Regions from separate parts of the Homo sapiens genome. Here region 2 is linked to region 1. Evidence: fine-mapped expression QTL. A gene starts in region 1. The other region holds a variant in brackets. All regions are shown on one strand. Distances are from middle to middle.

Region 1 (8,954 bases):
CTATATTTCCCTCTTTCTTAGGTCTGTTTCTGTTCCCTGAAATGTAAACTTGTGACTAAGATACCTAACCTCCTGAAATTGCGGCCCAGCAGGTCTCAGTCTCATTTTATCCAGCCCCTGTTCAAGATGGAGTTGCTCTGATTTGAATGCCTCTGACAGATGCACTTTACGGCTTTTCTTTTCTTTTCTTTTTTTTTTGAGACAGAGTCTCACTCTGTCACCCAGGCTAGAGTGTAGTGGTGAGATCTCAGCTCACTGCAACCTCTACCTCCCAGGTTCAAGTGATTCTCCTGCCTCAGCCTCCCAAATAGCTGGGATTACAGGAGCACACCACCACATCTGGCTAATTTTTGTATTTGCAGTAGAGACAGGTTTCACCATGTTGGCCAGGCTGGTCTTGAAGTCTGGAGACCTCCAGTGAGCCACCCACCTCGGCCTTCCAAAGTGCTGAGATTACAGGCATGAGCCACCATGCCCAGCCATTTTATGGCTTTTCTTGGCATATCTGAATTGTGGGCATCACTATTCTTGTGCTGGGGGTCCATTATTAAGTAAAATAAGGGTTACTGAACACAGGCACTGCTATATGGTAACTGTTGATCTGACAACCCAGACAGCTCCTAAGTTACTAACGAGCTAGTAGTGCCTACAGTGTAGATACACTGTACAAAGGGATGATTCATATCCTGGATATGTGATGGGTTACAATCCAAACAGTTAAAACTTTAGGTTGGGTGCAGTGGCTTATGCCTGTAATCCCAGCACTTTGGGAGGCAGAGGCAGGTGGATTACCTGAGGTCAGGAATTCACAACTAGCCTGGCCAACATGGTGAAACCCTGTCTCTACTAAAAATACAAAAATTAGCAGGGTGTGGTAGTGCATGCCTGTAATCCCAGCTACTCAGAAGGCTGAGGCAGGAGCATCACTTGAACCCCAGATGCAGAAGTTGCAGTGAGCTGAGATCAAACCACTGCACTCCAGCCTAGGTGACAGAGAGAGACTCTGTCTCAAAAAACAAAACAAAACAAACAAAACCCAAAAAACTAAAAAAAATAATAATAATAAATAAATAAAATGTTGCAGTATTTGCACATAACCTACATACATCTCCCACATGCTTTAAATCATCTCTAGATTACTTATAATTCCTAATACAATGTAAATGCTATGTAAATAGTTGTTATACTATATTGTTTAGGGAATCATGACAAAAATATTGTATAAAGTTATCTTCAGGCTATTATCTAAAGTGTATATGAAACATAAATGAATTTTGTATTCAGACTTGGGTCCCATCCAAATCTATCTCATTATATATACGCAAATATTCCAAAATCTGAAAAAATCCAAAACTTCTGGTCTGGAGCATTTTGGATAAAGGATAGTCAACCTGGCTGGGTGTGGTGGCTCATGCCTGCAATCCCAGCACTTTGGGAGCCCGAGGCAGGCAGATCACCTGAGGTTGGGTGTTCAAGACCAGCCTGACCAACACGGAGAAACCCTGTCTCTACGAAAAATACAAAATTAGCCAGGTGTGGTGGTGCATGCCTATAATCCCAGCTACTTGGGAGGCTGAGGCAGGAGATTTGCTTGAACCTGGGAGGTGGAGGTTGCAGTGAGCTGAGATTGCGCCATTGCACTCCAGCCTGGGCAACAAGAGTGAAACTCTGCCTCAAAAAAAAAAAAAAAAGGATAGTCAACCTGTATAACATATCAATCCTCAACAATATCTGCTCCCTTTTTTTTTTGAGACGGAGTCTCACTCTTTCGCTCAGGCTGGAGTGCAGTGGCGTGATCTTGGCTCACTGCAACCTCTGCCTCCCAGGTTCTAGTGAGCAATTCTCCTGCCTCAGCCTCCTGAGTAGCTGGGATTACAGACACATGCCACCACACCCGGCTAATTTTTGTATTTTTAGTAGAGACAGGGTTTCATCATGTTAGCCAGGGTGGACTCGATCTCTTGACCTCGTGATCCGCCCACCTCAGCCTCCCAAAGTGCTGGGATTATAGGCATGAGCCACCACACCTGGCCCAGATATATTACTCTTTAAAAAAAATTTTTTTTTTTGCAATCAGATATGTTACATCACCACTACTGCCTTAGTCAGCTCAGGCTACCGTAATAAAATACCATAGACTGGTGGCTTAACCAACAGAAATTTATATATATTCTCACAGCTATTTCTCACACATAAAAAACTATCTTTTATGTGTTCCCCCGACCCCCACTGGATTGGAATTCCCTAAGGGCATGGATGTTTCTGATTCATCTTTGTATTTCAGGCTTTAGCACAAGGCCTGAGGTGAAATGTGGTTCTGTAACCATTTGATGAAGTGTGATCAGAGCTATTCAAGGGAAGAAAAAAACTGCCTTGAGATGATTAATTCTCTGATACTAGAAATCTCTCAACTGGCTGGTTGAAGGCCCCTTGGGGACATTCCAGTGAGTGTCCAGCTAATTTAACTGTTTTCTGACATATTTTGAGTCTGGTTCTGGTAATGTCTGTAACTCTCTTATCAATGTTAATTTCCATTCCCTATTCCTATCTGTGTGGCTCTGGACATTGGCCAGAGGCAGGTGCTGGGCCTATATGCCTCCTCCCACCTTTCTCCCATGCTCCCTGTGAGGCAGGCATCTAGCTCTCTGATGGATGTGGCTGCCTCCTCATTGAAATGAAGAAGGGGCTCAGAAGAAACAGCACCTCTTGATGGCTGATGCTGTAGGTCTCTGAGCTAATGTGGACTAGAGGACAAATCCTGTTTATTCTGAAGTTTTGAAGAGTCTGAGATGCTTTCCTATTTGCCAATCAGTCAGCCTGAAAAGGTTATCTGCATATGTGTTCTAACAGAACACAGGATCTCTAATTCAGAGACCGACTGTATCTTGCGTCAGTTCCCTAGGCCCAAATTTCCCATTATGTCGGGGAGTGACACAGTGAAAGCCTCCGGGTGAAGAGAGGTTTTACAAGAGAGGAACCCTAATATTATGAAACTCAGAGCTTGTGCAGGATAGGAGGCTGTCCCTCTTCCTTGAGTGGTAAGGGAGACAGACAGAGAGGGAGAGGGAGGGTGTGTGAGTGTGTGTGTGTGTGAGAGAGAGAAAGAATAAGGAAATAAGCAAATGGCTGTGGGTTTTATTACCTTTGAAAGGGAGCAGCTGGCTCTTGGGAAGTGCATAGGAGAGGAAATATTTTGTATCTTCCAAATATCATGCAAATACCTTTTAATCCAGATGCCAATAATCTGCTCAGAAAGCCCTGACTGCACACTCATTGTTTCTCCCATGCAGCCCTAGCCAGGAGTCCTTTCCTGGCTCCTTCTATCCCCGCAGTTCTTTTCTTGAGGAGGACAGATAGGGTTTCTTAGGGAGTTAGGATGAAGAAAGCCTAAGTATGATGAATTCCCCATCCAGCACTGTGCCCAGCACATAGCAGACATCCAATAAAGGTCTGTTAAATGAATGACACGGACCCGTTGTTTAAGATTTTAATAAAGGTGGGGCAAAGGGTTGAATTGGTCGAAAAGTCCTCAACGTCCTGACGGGACTCCCCTGAAGCCAAGGCAGTTTGAGTCCATTCATTATTCTGTCTTGGATCTTAGGCAAAGCCCCGGGCCCCTTGGAGCAGCACCAGGGTTCCCGACACCCCCACCGACAGGGTCGAACGTGCACAGGCTGGGACCACGCCGGAGTTCATTGAGCCCTCGTGGGGGAGGGCAGTTCCAGGGACCAGGAAGGGATTCCCGTCCAGTGTCAGGTTATCCACCTCGGGCAGCTCGTCAGGCTGCGGCGCCCTGTTCAGTCTGTTGCAGCTGAGATCGAGCACTCTGAGCTTGGCTGGCAGTCCTTTAGGCACCTGTTCCAGCCCAGCGAACGACAGATTGAGGGAGTTCAGGGCGCTGGACCACATGCATCTCGGAGCGCTAGGGTTTACGGTGGCGCGCAGCGAGTTGTGGCTGAGGTCTAGGCTGTGGGGCTGCACACCTGCCGCCGCCAGTGCGGCGCACACGCCTGTGGGCGTCTCCATTCCTGTGTTGCGCAGCGCTAGATTCTGGATGGCCGGGAACTTGTGGGGACAGAGAGCCGCCATCAGTCCGCGTTCGCCCAGTCCAGGATTGTCAGACAGGTCTAGGCTGGTAAGGGCCGGGAAGGCGCGAACCTGTTCGCAGGAAAAGGCAGGCGAGTGTGCTTGGGCAATGCTCAGTACCTTGAGGCCTGGCTTGAGCCACTGCTGCAGCTCGGCGAGCCAAGAACGCCCTGTCGCCCACGACACGTTGCGTAGGCGCAAGCTGGAAAGTGCAAGTCCTGTGGCTTCCAGAGGCAGCGGAGGCATGGTGCCGGTTATCTTTAGGTCCTCGAGCGTCAGTTCCTTGAGGCGGGAGTACGCTAGCACACGCAGGGCGCCTACCAGTAGCTGAGCAGGAACCTGTGCGGCTCCCACTGTGAGCCGCCGCACGCGGAGAGCCTTGACCGTGTCAGCATACTGCCGCGGGTCGGCGTCCGCATCGACGCGCTTTAGAAACGGCTCTAGGTTGAGACCGCCGGCATGGATCTCCACCTCTACTGCAGACACACACTGGAAGGCTTCGGACCAGTCGGGCTGAGGTTCGGAGAAGTTGCAGACGCAGCGGAAATCTTCATCGTCCAGCTCACAAGGTTCTGGCGTGGTCGCAGAGACGTGCACCAGCGGCAGCAGCAGCAGCAACAAGCAGGACGCGCGCTCCTGGGGAGAGAGCAGAGGTCTAGGAGGCCCCATCCAACCCCTGTGGCTCCCGAGTGGCACGCGTTCGACCCCAAGACCCTACACTCACCATGGTCGATAAGTCTTCCGAACCTCTGAGCTCCGGACAGGCTCTGGAAGTGCTTTAGCTTCTTTCCTACACAGCGGCACCCGCCGGCTTCCAGGCTTCACACTTGTGAACTCTTCGGCTGCCTCTGACAGTTTATGTAATCCTGGGATGTCATTCAGTTCCCTCCTCTGTGAACCCTGATCACCTCCCCACCTCTCTTCCTCCGAGCCAGCCCCCTTCCTTTCCTGGAAATATTGCAATGAAGGATGTTTCAGGGAGGGGGACCGTAACAGGAAGGATTCTGCAGGGCATCTAGGGTTCTGTGTCTCCTGGCAGTGTCCTGATGACTCAGGCGCCCCAGGCGGTGAATGCCCTGTTGACTCGGGAGCCTAAGCCTTCTCTGGTGGGTGTGGGAAAAGGATGATCCTCAGTGCCTTAGGCCAGTACCATACTCTGCACTATCCAACCCCCCAATCCCCCTACCTTATATCCCAGAGAATCTACTTGATTCATTTCTTTGACTTCTTCCTTGTCTTGGTTTATGTTGATCTCCTGCCACCAAATCCAAGTCCCTGAATATCCTCAGATATTTAACTGCATGTTTTGTGGAAGAGATTGTGAACCTCATCTGTTGGCACCAAGGGGGGTAGAATTAGGTTCAAGAAAAGGAAGTTGGTCTAAAGAAAAATTCCCCCTTCCTTTTTTTTTCCTTGCTCCTTTGATTAAGTAATAACTTTCTTTCTTTTTTTTTTTTTTTTTTGAGATAGAGTCTTGCTCTGTTGCTCAGGCTGGAGTAGAGTGCCATGATCTCGGCTCACTGCAACCTCCGCCTCCTGGGTTCAAGCAATTCTCTGCCTCAGCCTCCCGAGTAGCTGGGATTACAAGTGCCCACCACCACACCCAGCTAATTTTTGTATTTTTTAGTAGAGACAGGTTTTCATCATCTTGGCCAGGCTGGTCTTGAACTCCTGACCTTGTGATCCACCCGCCTCGGCCTCCCAAAGTGCTGGGATTACAGGCGTGAGCCACTGTGCCTGGCAGTACTAACTTTCTTAAAAGTGGATGTATTTAACAGAGACACATTGGCCAAGTCTCTGGGTCACTTACACTATCCATTTTCTGTCCTGAAATTGTGAAGCAAGGTATTTTGAATCAGTTTTCCCACTTGCACGTTGCTCTCTCCTGCCCTCCCCTCAGTACAATCTCTGTGCCCTAGGAAGGAAGGGATGGGACTATGTTGAATGAGGATTAATTAGTAACTCACCAGTTTCGCAAAAAACAGACAAAAACAGAAAACAAAACAAAATGAAAAAAACAGCAAACAAAACAAAACAAAAAAACAACAAATGTCCCAGAGAATAAGGAGCTACGCATTTACAACAGCCCTCACAGGTCCACATCCCTAGACCTCTGGGGAAAGAACTATATGAAAGTCTTTTTTTTTTTTTTTTTTTTTGAGACTGAGTTTGGCTCTGTTGCCCAGGCTGGAGTGCAGTGGCGTGATCTTGGCTCACTGCAACCTCCGCCTCCCAAGTTCAAGCAATTCTCTTGCCTCAGATTCCTGAGTAGCTGGGATTACAGGAGCCCACCACCATGCCCGGCTAATTTTTGTAGTTTTAGTAGAGACAGAGTTTCACTATGTTGACCAGGCACTCCTGACCTCAGGTGATCCGCCCGCCTTGGCCTCTCAAAGTGCTGGGATTACAGGCGAGAGCCACCACACCCGGCCTGAAAGTCTTTTTTACTTTTATTTATTTATTTGAGACGGAGTTTTGTTCTTGTTGCCCAGGCTGGGCGCGATCTCAGCTCACTGCAATCTCCGCCTCCCAGGTTCCAGCAATTCTCCTGCCTCAGCTTCCCGAGCGGCTGGGATTACAGGCATGTGCCACTACACCCGGCTAATTTTGTATTTTTAGTAGAGATGGGGTTTCTCCATGTTGGTCAGGCTGGTCTCGAACTCCCGACCTCAGGTGATTCACCTGCCTCGGCCTCCCAAAGTGCTGGGATTACAGGCATGAGCCACCGTGCCCGGCAGAAAGTCTTTTTTAAATTCCCACTTCCTCTTTAATTGAGAAAGAAGTAGCTGCAGATTTGTCCCCAATCCAAACAAGAAGGCTCATCACTGCCCCCTGCGGGTCCTGTTGGGCATACCCCAATGCACTGGGCCATGCCCTGGTGCCATGCCAGGCCTCTGTGATATCCCTGAGGACCAAGATATGATTATATCTGACTCAAAGTCAGATAGCCAGTCTTGGAATCCCAGCTTTACGACTGAGGTTATGAGACTTGGGCCTCCCTTCTGTAAAATGGAGATGATAGTATTACCTGTTTGTGAGTAAAGTCTTTGGCACAGAAACACATCTTTTTAGTGTGGTCTTGATGACTAGTCTTCTTTCTCAGAGTCTCTGCTTTCAGAGAACTCAGGCCACTGAAGTCTGACACCTCATCATCTTAGGGGAGGCACTCTGGGTGGGGAGTTCCAAGTTAAGAGGGGCAGTGATGGTTCTGCAAAGATCTCCAACTCACAGCTTGATTCAACAAATGTCTATCATTTGTCTACCGAGTACTAGGGTTGGTAGAAAGCCCTGGGACACAGACATGACAAAGACAAGTCCCTGAAGTGCTCCAGGAGGTGGGTAGAGCAAACATGAACCCAGAACTTCCGTCCATAGTGCAGAGGGCTCTTAAAAGAAGAGAAACCAAAGGCTTGTGTTGTTGGGGGAGAGGGGTGGAGGGGAGGAACATGGTCTGGAGAAAGGAACAGCCAGCCCTGTACAAGACAGGACATGGGGCTGGTTCTTACAGGGTTAACAGTGTTGCTAGACAGGTAGATACAGAAAGGCAATTTGGGCAGCTGTAGCTGTCTGAGCAGACACTGGGCAGAATATAGCTTTTGGCTGGGAACTTTTTTCATCTTCCCCACCTGGAGCACATGTGGGTTTTGTTGTTGTTGTTATTGTTGTTGTTTTAGATGGAGTTTCACTCTTGTTGCCCAGGCTGGAGTGCAATGATGCAATCTTGGCTCATCGCAACCTCCACCTCCTGGGTTCAAGCGAGTCTCCTGCCTCAGTCTCCTGAGTAGCTGGGATTACAAGCACGTGCCACCACACCTGGTTAATTTTGCATTTTTAGTAGAGACGGGGTTTCACCATGTTGGTCATGCTGGTCTCGAACTCCTGACCTCAGGTGATCCACCTGCCTCCATCTCCCAAAGTGCTGGGATTATAGGCATGAGCCACCTTGCTGGGCCAAGTGTGGGTCTTAGAAGCTAGCCTGGGTTAGGTGCAGTGGCTCATGCCAGTAATTCTAGCACTTTGGGAGGCCAAGCTGAAAGGATCATTTAAGGCTGAGTTCCAGGCTGTGATAAGCCATGATTGCACTACTGCACTGCAGCGTGGGCAACCGAGCAAGACCCTGGCTCAAAAAAAAAAATAAATAAATAAAATAAAAATAAAAAAGTTTTTCTTGGGGAAATAAGAAAATAAATTTTTTTTAATTAAAAAATTAAAAAAAGAAGCCAGACAGTTGCATGAGGAAGGGCTCAAGATCCAGGCCCTATCCCTGGCCAGAGCATGGTGCACAGCAGGTACTCAGTAAATGGCTCTCCAGGGGCTGGATGGATACTGGGAGAGAAGATATGGAGGATGGAATGATGGCCTGTAGATATTTTAACATGCTGTTTTGTGGAAGAGATTGCAGACTTCATTGATTAACTCCAAGGGGTAGAATTAAGTTCAAGGGAAAGAAATTGGTTTTAAGAATAACCTTTTTCCTAGATTTGTACTTAATTGAACCTTTGCCTAAGTTATATGGCTTTTTAAAAATTAGAGGTTTCCTGTAAAAATTCTTAGGTGCCACCGGGACCCTAATCTTCTGGAGCTGCCAAGGGGGTCTGGGAGGAGACAACATCAAATAATTACACTATAACTTAATGATAGCTGTGAAAAGGGTTGTGAAGAAGCTGGGTCATTGGTACAATGGTTCTGAGTAGGTGACACTGGACTTGACATGTTGAGAATGGTGTTGAGGGAAGGATGCTGGTAGAAAGAAAAGGGAAGGATGCAGGCAGAGAAAACAGCTTGTGCGAGAGCCTCCCCCAAGAGTGGGAGTAGGGTGGAGGAGAAAAAGAACAGGGCTTGTTGACAAAGAGAAGGTCCCAGAAGAG
Region 2 (8,954 bases), 31 kb before region 1:
CTTGCTCTGGGTCTCTTTCAAAGTGTTAGCATAATATTGGATTTCCCTAATTGGGTTATTCATTCCATACCCTCAGCTATTATTCTTCATTCTCTCATTTATACCCAAACTTTTCTACCTTTGGAAGGGACATTAGGAGAGGCCACTGTGCTAGTCCAGATTGCTGGCAACAATAGTAGTTTAACAAGTGCCTCCCCTTCAGTCCACTCCAATTTATATAGATTAGGGCTATATAGCTACAGGACTAATGGACTATCTTAGCCACTGGATGATACAGCAGCATTTACTGTCAACTCAAATTTTGCCAGATGGGTTGAGGGCACAACTTAACCTATAGGGTCCTTAGAAATGCTGAAATAAAGATTTAAAGGTATAGTTACAATGTCTTGCCTAGGAATTATCTATGCTTCTGGCACCTGCAGATGTATCTCTAGTCCTGGAACCTCTGCATCAGATGGCAAAAAAGAAAGTTGAGGTGATGTGGGCAAGAATCATATAGTCATACCAACACCCTCCCTCAACCCCTCTCCCCTAGATTTTCCTAGAAAAATGGAGGAATCTCTCCAATGGGGATTCTCCCTTGGCCCCCTCATGGTGCATGTGAGCATACCCTCATGAAAACATTTAAACAAGTGCTTCATAACTTTATCCCCTCCCCCATTTTACTTGATTTTTAAATTTTATTTTCTTATTTTATTTGGTTTTTTTTTTTTAGAGACAGGTTCTTGTTTTGTTGCCCAGGCTGGAGTGCAGTGGCATGATATCTCACTGCAGCTTTGAACTCTTGCGCTAAAGTGATCCTCCCGCCTCGTCCTCCCAAAGTGCTGGGATTATAGGCATGAGCCACTGCACCCTCACTCACCTCATTTTAGACAATGAATGTTTCAAGTGCTCATTCCAATTCCCTATTAAACTGCTACTCTGAGGATGACAATGCAACGTGGTATGTCTGTTTGATGTGATATCTCTTTGTCCACTGTTGGACATCATGGGCTGTAAAGTGTGACTCTTGGTTTGAAGAAATGTAACTTGGTGGTCCAAATTAGTACAGTATCTTTTGTTCCAATAATTTAATAGTATTTTCAGCATTCGTATCTACCACTAGGTGTGCAAAGCCCAGTCCAAAGTAAGTGTCTATTCCTGGCCGGGTGCAGTGGCTTACGCCCGTAATCCCAGCACTTTGGGAGGCCAAGGCAGATGGATCACCTGAGGTCAAATTTTGAGACCAGCCTGGTCAACATGGTGAAACCCAGTCTCTATTAAAACTACAAAAGAATTAGTCAGGTGTGGTGGCAGGCGACTGTAATCCCAGCTACTCGGGAGGCTGAGACAGGAGAATCACTTGAACCCAGGAGGAGGAGGTAGCAGTGAGCGGAGATCACACCACTGCACTCCAGCCTGGGTGACAGACCAAGACTCCATCTCAAAAACAAAAAAACCAAAAAACCAAAGTAAGTGTCTATTCCTGTCAGACCCCATTTGTAGCCCCCAGGGCTGCCAGCATTTGTTCAATGTAATCTATCTACCAGCTATGTGTGAGGCCTTCCAACGGGGGAATGTGCCCCAGGGCCACCTGCATTCTCTGTCTCTCTTGCTGGCAGACAAAACAGTTCTTGTTGGCATTTTGTGCTTCAAAGGGTGCAAGAGGAATATGTCTAGATCTCTACATTGCCACAGTATTCTTAGGTCCACTCATTCCATGGACCCAGGTGGCCACCTCAAGTGAGCACACTGGGAAATTCACTCACTGGTGCCAATCACCTTCCAATCCAGGAAAGTGATTCTTCTATTGGGCATTGATATGTCCTACTTTAATCTATCCCTCAAATTTCCATAGTGATTTTCTTAGGGGATCCCTTTAAGAGGGCAGTTTTCTATTGCTCTTCAGCCTGACCATATGATCACGTCAGTATGCACCACCCATGAATCAGTAAAAACCCAAATGTAGTGGCAAACAGAATGCAATAGCCTATAAGGTAAGTTGTTTTTACCTTCTTAGCCTTCCAAACAAGATGCTGCACATTCACCTTGGAACTGCGATTATAAACCAAGAAGCTCTTTGCTGTTTATAGGACACTCTCCAGGTAGCAGTAGAATCTGACAGCTCCAGCCAGGTGCTGTGGCTCACGCCTATAATCCCAGCACTTTGGGAGGCCGAAGAGGGCGGATCACCTGAGGTCAGGAGTTTGAGACCAACCTGGTCAACATGGGGAAACCCCATCTCTACTAAAAATATAAAAATTAGCTGGGCATGGTGGTGCACACCTGTAATCCCAGCTAGTCGGGAGGCTGAGGCAGGAGAATCGCTGGAACCTGGGAGGCGGAGGTTACAGTGAGCAGTGAGCCAAGATCGCAACACTGCACTCCAGCCTGGGTGACAGAGCAAGGCTCCATCTCAAATAAAATATAAAATAAAATAAAATAAAATAAAATAAAATAAAATCTGGCAGCTCCTCAGGTGGTTCAAAAGTCAATTCTAGGGGAAAAAGTCTATCTGCTTGGAAATATGGTATCTCCTGGCATTCCCCCAGTGGTATGTTCCATCAGAAACAACTTCCATTTTGTTATGGAGCTCTTCCAGGCACTTCTCTCCCCATTGAATGGTTTCTCCAACATCATCCAAAATGTTATGGGTATTTTATGTTTAAGATTATTTTATATCTTTCAGTTATAGTGGAAGTTTTACTTAATGTCTGATAAGAAATAAGTAATTTCCCTGCAAATGGGAATTCTCTGGTCCAAAGTCCCAGCAGTTATTGCTGGGTGGCACTCACAGACTTTTGCCATAAGCTCCAGCCTATACTTCACACAGGGCTATTGTACAGAGAATTTTCCCTACTGGCACTTCAGCTTCTATTTTATACTGTTTGAAATTAACAATCAGTGTGACTTGGGCCATCTTATTTGTTCCCATTTTAGCACATCCAATTAATATTACCCATAGGGTGAATTTGTTTTGTTTTTTTTTTTTTTGAGACAGAGTCTTGCTCTGTCACTCAGGCTGGAGTACAGTGGCGCGATCTCGGCTCACTGCAACCTTCGCCTCCCGAGTTCAAGTGATTCTCCTGCCTCAGCCTCCTGAGTAGCAGGGTTACAGGCACCCGCCACTGTGCCCGGATAATTTTTGTATTTTTAGTAGAGACAGGGTTTCGTCATTTTGGCCAGCCTGGTCTCAAGCTCCTGACCTCATGATCCACCTGCCTCAGCCTCTCAAAAGTGCTGGGATTACAGGTGTGAACCAGTGGGCCTGGCCCCAAAGGGTGAATTTATGTGCCTTCTGTTTATAATACTAGGGAGGGGAAATGTTCCACGGTCAGATACAATATCCCCATACTACATTCAACGAAAAGAGATGCTATTCACACATACAAACTGTTCAAACATACGAATTTTAATCCAAACTTTTGTCACTTTAGTTTCATCAACCCTTGCATCCCTGACTGAAGCTTCCACTAGGACTTCACCAACAGATTTTCATTTTATAAATACTAGGTAGGGAAAGTGTGCCCCATTAAGACATAATATTCATTCTCTTAAAACATCCGTGTATAGGAGCTACAACCCCTTCACATAAATCCCATCTAAACACTCTATTTTTATCCCTTAATCCCATCCACCCTTGATTTCTATACACTTTTGTTCTAATTGTGGTCTTAGTGAGGGCTCACTAGCAGGGGACTACAGTGTATGTGGCTCCTATGTTAAGGAGTCCTAGAAATGTCCCTTTT[C/G]CACCCTGACAGTTTTTCTCACTGATGTGCATAAGGCCTTGGGTCTGCAATGGCTGTGGGGGTATGGGGTGGTGGTGGTAGTGAACCAAAGGAAGCTGACCCATTTGTCATCAATCCTTATACTGATTTGGTTATGGGACTATTGCCCCAGGTGATTCAAGGTAAGGTTTCTTGAATTCCTCCAAACAAGGTTGGATAAATCATATTTGTCCAGGGCCCTTCATGTTGGGACAACAGCAGGGGCTCCCTTTGGTCCACCTCAACCTCTCAGAGTACTGCTCTAAGACCGTTGTTTTGACCCCATTCACGTCAGCCTTATTCCATTTATTTTTTTGAGACAGAGTCTCGTTCTGTCACCCAGGCTGGGGTGCAGTGACACAATCTCAGAACTATGGTAATATAATGCTCCCTTCCTTATAAGGATGACGTAAAGCAGTGTTTCTCAAAGTGTATTCCCTGTGCCAGCAGTCTCAGCATCTCCTGATAATTGAATTAAAAGGCAGATTTCAGGCGTCACCATACCTGTTGAATCAGAAACTCTGGTTTCTGTGTTTTAAGACTTCTAGGAGATTCCAGTGGAGTCTAGACTTTGAGAACAACTGTTGATGAGATTAAGTGAGTTAATAATAAGCTTTAGGACAGTGCCTGGCACATACTAAGCAGTATATTCATGAATATTTTTAAGCGAATACAATAAAATATGGTCAACATATAGAAAGTTTAATTTAGGCAACAAGATGTTGCCCATGCTGTTCCCCCAAGAAATAAATCCTGCTTAATTCCTTGTCCAAAGGCATCAACATGGACTGCCAAACCCCTCATCATGTGGCTTCTGCCTTCCTTTCCTACTATTTCTATTCTCCATATACACTAGGTCTCCAACTTTTCTAGTACTCAGTATGAGAATTGCTTACTCACACCTCCAAGGCTTTGCCTATTCTGTTCCCTCTGCATGGTTCCTTCTCTTCCTTTTTAAAAAAGAACCTCTTTTCTCTCACTTCCTACACTTGCAATCTCCCGAATTCCTACATCTCCCTCAAAACCCAGCTCCAGTGTCACCTCTGTGATGACCTCACTGCTGTCCAGTCAGAGCCAGGCATTTGCTAGGCCTCAACACCGCCCTACACATCCCACTTATAGTACTTAGAGCAGTTTGTAACTGTTTACAGTTTCATTTCGTCTTTTTGAATTTCTTAATTGAGGTGAAATTCATGTTACATATAATTAGTCATTTTAAAGTGTGGCTGGGAGTGGTGGCTCACACCTGTAATCCCAGCACTTTTCAGAGGCTGAGGCACGTGGATCACTTGAGGTCAGGAGTTTGAGACCAGCCTAACCAACATAGCCAAACCCCATCTCTACAAAAATACAAAAAATTAGCCAGGCGTGGTGGCACACACCTATAATCCCAGCTACTTGGGAGGCTGAGGCAGGAGAATCGCTTGAACCTGGGAGGTGGAGGTTACGGTGAGCCAACATCATGCCACTGCACTCCAGCCTTGGCCATAGAGCAAAACTCTGTCTCTCTCACACACACACACAAACACACACACACAAAAAAAAAGGAAAGGAAAAAAGAAAAGAAAAATGGCCATGCGTGGTGGCTCACGCCTGTAATCCCAGCACTTTGGGAGGCCAAGGTGGGCGGATCACCTGAGGTCAGGAGTTTGAGACTAGCCTGGCCACATGGTGAAACCCCGTCTCTACTAATAATACAAAAATTAGCCAGGGTGAGCCGAGATAGTGCCGCTGCACTCCAGCCTGGGAAACAAGAGTGAAATTCTGTCTCAAAAAAAAAAAAGTGTATGATTCAGTGGTATTTAGTGTATTCGCACTGTTGTGCAACCATCACTTCTTTCTAGTTTCAAAACTTTTCCATCATGCCCAAAACACATGCCATACCCATTAAGTAATCACTTCCCATTCCTCTCTCTCCCCTCCCCAGGTGACCACTAAGCAGTTTTCTGTCTTTATGAATTTGCCTATTCTGGATATATTATATAAAAGAAGGCAAACAATAACAACATGTGACTTTCAGTGTTTGGCTTATTTTATTTTATTATTTTATTTTATTTTATTTTATTTTTGAAGCAGAGTTTCACTCCATTGCCCAGGCTGGAGTGCAGTGACGTGATCTTGGCTCACTGCAACCTGCACCTCCCAGGTTCAAGCGCTTTTCCTGCCTCAGCCTTCCAAGTAGCTGAGATTACAGGTGCTCGTCACCACACTCAGCTAATTTTTGTATTTTTAGTAGAAACAGGATTACACCATGTTGGCCAGGTTGGTCTCAAACTCCTGACCTCAGGTGATCTGCCCGCCTCGGCCTCCGAAAGTGCTGGGATCACAAGTGTGAGCCACTGTGCCTGGCCAGTGTCTGACTTCTTTTACTTAGCATTAGTTTAAAGTTCATCCAAGTTGTGGCATGTATCAATATTTGGGGTTTTTTTTTGCTGTATAATATTCCATTAAATGTTCATATCACAATTTATTTATCCATCATCTGTTGATGAGCATTTGGGTTATTTTCACCATTCGGTTATTATGAATACTGCTGCTATAAACATTTGTGTGCAAGTTTCTGTGTAGATATATGTTTTCATTTCTCTTGAGTATATACTAAGGAGTAGAATTGATGGGTCATATGGTAATTATATGTTTAACTTTTTGAGGAACTGCTAGCTGTTTCCAGAGTAGCTGCACCATTTTACTTTCCCAATAGCAAGGTATGAGAGTTCCTGTTTTTCCACATCCTCACCAACACTTGTTATTTTATTTAAAAAATTTATCATTATAGCAGTATGGTGAGTGTGTAGTGATATCTCATTGTGCCTTTAATTTGCGTTCCCTTTATGATCAATGATGTTGAACATCTTTTCATATGCTTGTTAGCCATTTGTATAGCCTATGTGGAGAAATAGCCATTCAAGTTGCTTGCCTTATTAAAAACTGGATTGAGACCAGCCTGGGCAACATAGCTACACCTTGTCTCTACTAAAAATCAAAACAATTAGCTGGGTGTGGTAGTGTGCTCCTGTAGTAACAGCACTCAGGAGGCTGAGGCAGGAGAATTGCTTGAGCCCAGGAGGTAGAGGCTGCAGTGAGCTGTGATCATCCCACTGCACTCCAGACTGGGCAACACAGTGAGATTCTGTCTCAAAAAAATAAATAAAAAATAAAATTGGATTGTCTTTGTTGTTGTTGAGTTGTAAAAGTTCTTTATATATACTGCATACTAGACCCTTATCAGATATATAATTTTCATAATTTTCTCCTATTCAAAGGCTGTCTTTTCACTTTCTTGATAGTGTCCTTTGATGCACCAAAGTTTTTAATCTCTATGAAGTCCAATTTATCACTTTTTTTTGTTGCTCATGCTTTTGGTGTCACATCTAAGAATTCATTGCCAAATCAGAGGTCATGAAGATTAATCCCTAGGTTTTCTTCTAACAGTTTCATAGCTTTAGTTCTGTTATTTAAGTTGTTAATCTATTTTGAGTTAATTTTTGTATATGGAGAGAGGTAATGGTCTAGTGTCATTTCTCTTTTTTTTTTTTTTTTGCATATTAGCTACCCAGTTTTCTCAGCATTATTTTTGAAGAGATTTCTTTTTTCCATTGAATAATCTTGGCTTCATTATCAAAAATCAGTTGGTTATAGATGTTTGGGTTATTTCCAGGCTCTAATCCTATACAGTTGTTCTGTGTCAATATTAAGTCTTCCAATGCATAAACATTGAAGGGATGTCTTTCCATTTATTTAGGTCTTCTTTAATTTATTTCAGCAATGTTTTCTAGTTTTCATTTTATAAGGTTTTAACCTCTTTGGTAATTGTATTCCAAGGAATTTTATTCTTTTTGAAAACATGTAAATGAAATTATTCTCTTAATTTCCTTTCTGGATTTTAAATTGCTATTGCATAGAAACAACTAATTTTTGTGTGTTGATCTTGTAGTCTGAAACTGCTTAATTTATTATCCCCAATAGTTTTTTTGTGAATTCTATGAGACTTTCTATTTATAGAATCATATCATATGCAAATACAATTTTACTTCTTCCTTTCCAAATTGGATGCCTTTATTTATTTATTTTTCTTGCCTAGTTTCTCTGGCTAAAACTTCTGGTACGGTAGTAAATATAAGTGGTAAAAGTGGCATCTTTAGGCCAGGTGTGGTGGTTCACGCCTGTAATCCTAGTGCTTTGGGAGGCTGAGGCGGGTGCATCACCTGAGGTCAGGAGTTCGAGACCAGCCTGACCAACACAGTGAAACCCCATTTCTACTAAAAATACAAAAATTAGCTGGGCATGGTGGTGGGTGCCTGTAATCCCAGCTACTTGGGAGGCTGAGGCAGGAGAATCGCTTGCATCCAGGAGGCAGAGGTTGCAGTGAGCTGAGATCTCGTCGTTGCACTCCAGCCTGGGTTACAGAGCGAGACTCTGTCTCAAAAAAAAACAAAACACACACACACACACACACACACACACACACACACACACACACACAAAGAAAGAAGATGTTTCCTCCTTTTCTGTTTTTTGAAAGAGTTTAAGTAAGATTGGCATTAAGTCTTTTTAATATTTGGTAGAATTCACCAGTGAAGCTATCTGGTCTTGAACTTTTTTTTGTTGTGAGATTTTTGGTTACTGATTCAATCTCTTGTTATAAATATGTTGTTGAGGCAGTTTTGGCAATAAGTGTGTCCTAGGAATTTGTCCATTTCATCTAGATTACCTAATTTGTTGGCATATCGTGTTCAAAATATTTTCTTTCAATCGTTTTAATTTCTGTAAGGTCAGTAGTAATGTTCCACTTTAATTAACCTTCCTTCTTCCTTCCCTCCCTCCCTCCCCCTTCCCCCCCTTCTTTTCCTTCCCTTTCCTTTCCTTTTCCTTTTCCCCTTCCTTCCTTCCTTCCTCCCTCTCTCTTTCTTTCCTCTTTTTTTTTTTTCCAGGGTCTCATTCTGTCACCCAGGCTGGAGTGCAGTGGTGTGCGGCCTTGAACTCCTGGGCTCAAGCACTCCTCCTGCCTTAGCCTCCCAAGTAGTTAGGACCACAGATGTGTGCCACCAGGCCTGGCTAAATAAACAAAAAAATTGTAGAGATGGGGTCTGTCTATGTTGCCCAGGCTGGTACTTTCATTTCTGATTTTAGTTATTTGTACTTTCTTTTTTTTCTCAGACTAAAGGTTTGTCAATTTTGTTGATCTTTTAAAAGAACCAACTCTTGGTT

Evidence for each region. PIP is the estimated chance that this variant, and not a neighbour inherited with it, causes the effect.
Region 2: its variant is fine-mapped to the expression of CD14 in whole blood (INTERVAL, PIP above 0.99).

Annotation. Positions count from the first base shown.
Region 1 is chr5:140,628,259-140,637,212 of GRCh38, forward strand. It overlaps CD14 (CD14 molecule), which reads right to left and starts at 4,917. Exons shown (of 2, transcript NM_000591.4): 1 at 4,811-4,917; 2 at 3,474-4,722. The coding sequence starts at 4,813. The coding sequence ends at 3,598. It also overlaps a transcript of TMCO6 not described here. RefSeq lists enhancers at 3,560-4,061, 3,790-3,849, 4,062-4,561.
Region 2 is chr5:140,597,511-140,606,464 of GRCh38, forward strand. It overlaps a transcript of TMCO6 not described here. Among named protein-coding and RNA genes, the nearest start is that of CD14, 31 kb to the right of the region's middle. The variant C/G (reference allele first, on the strand shown) is at 3,729.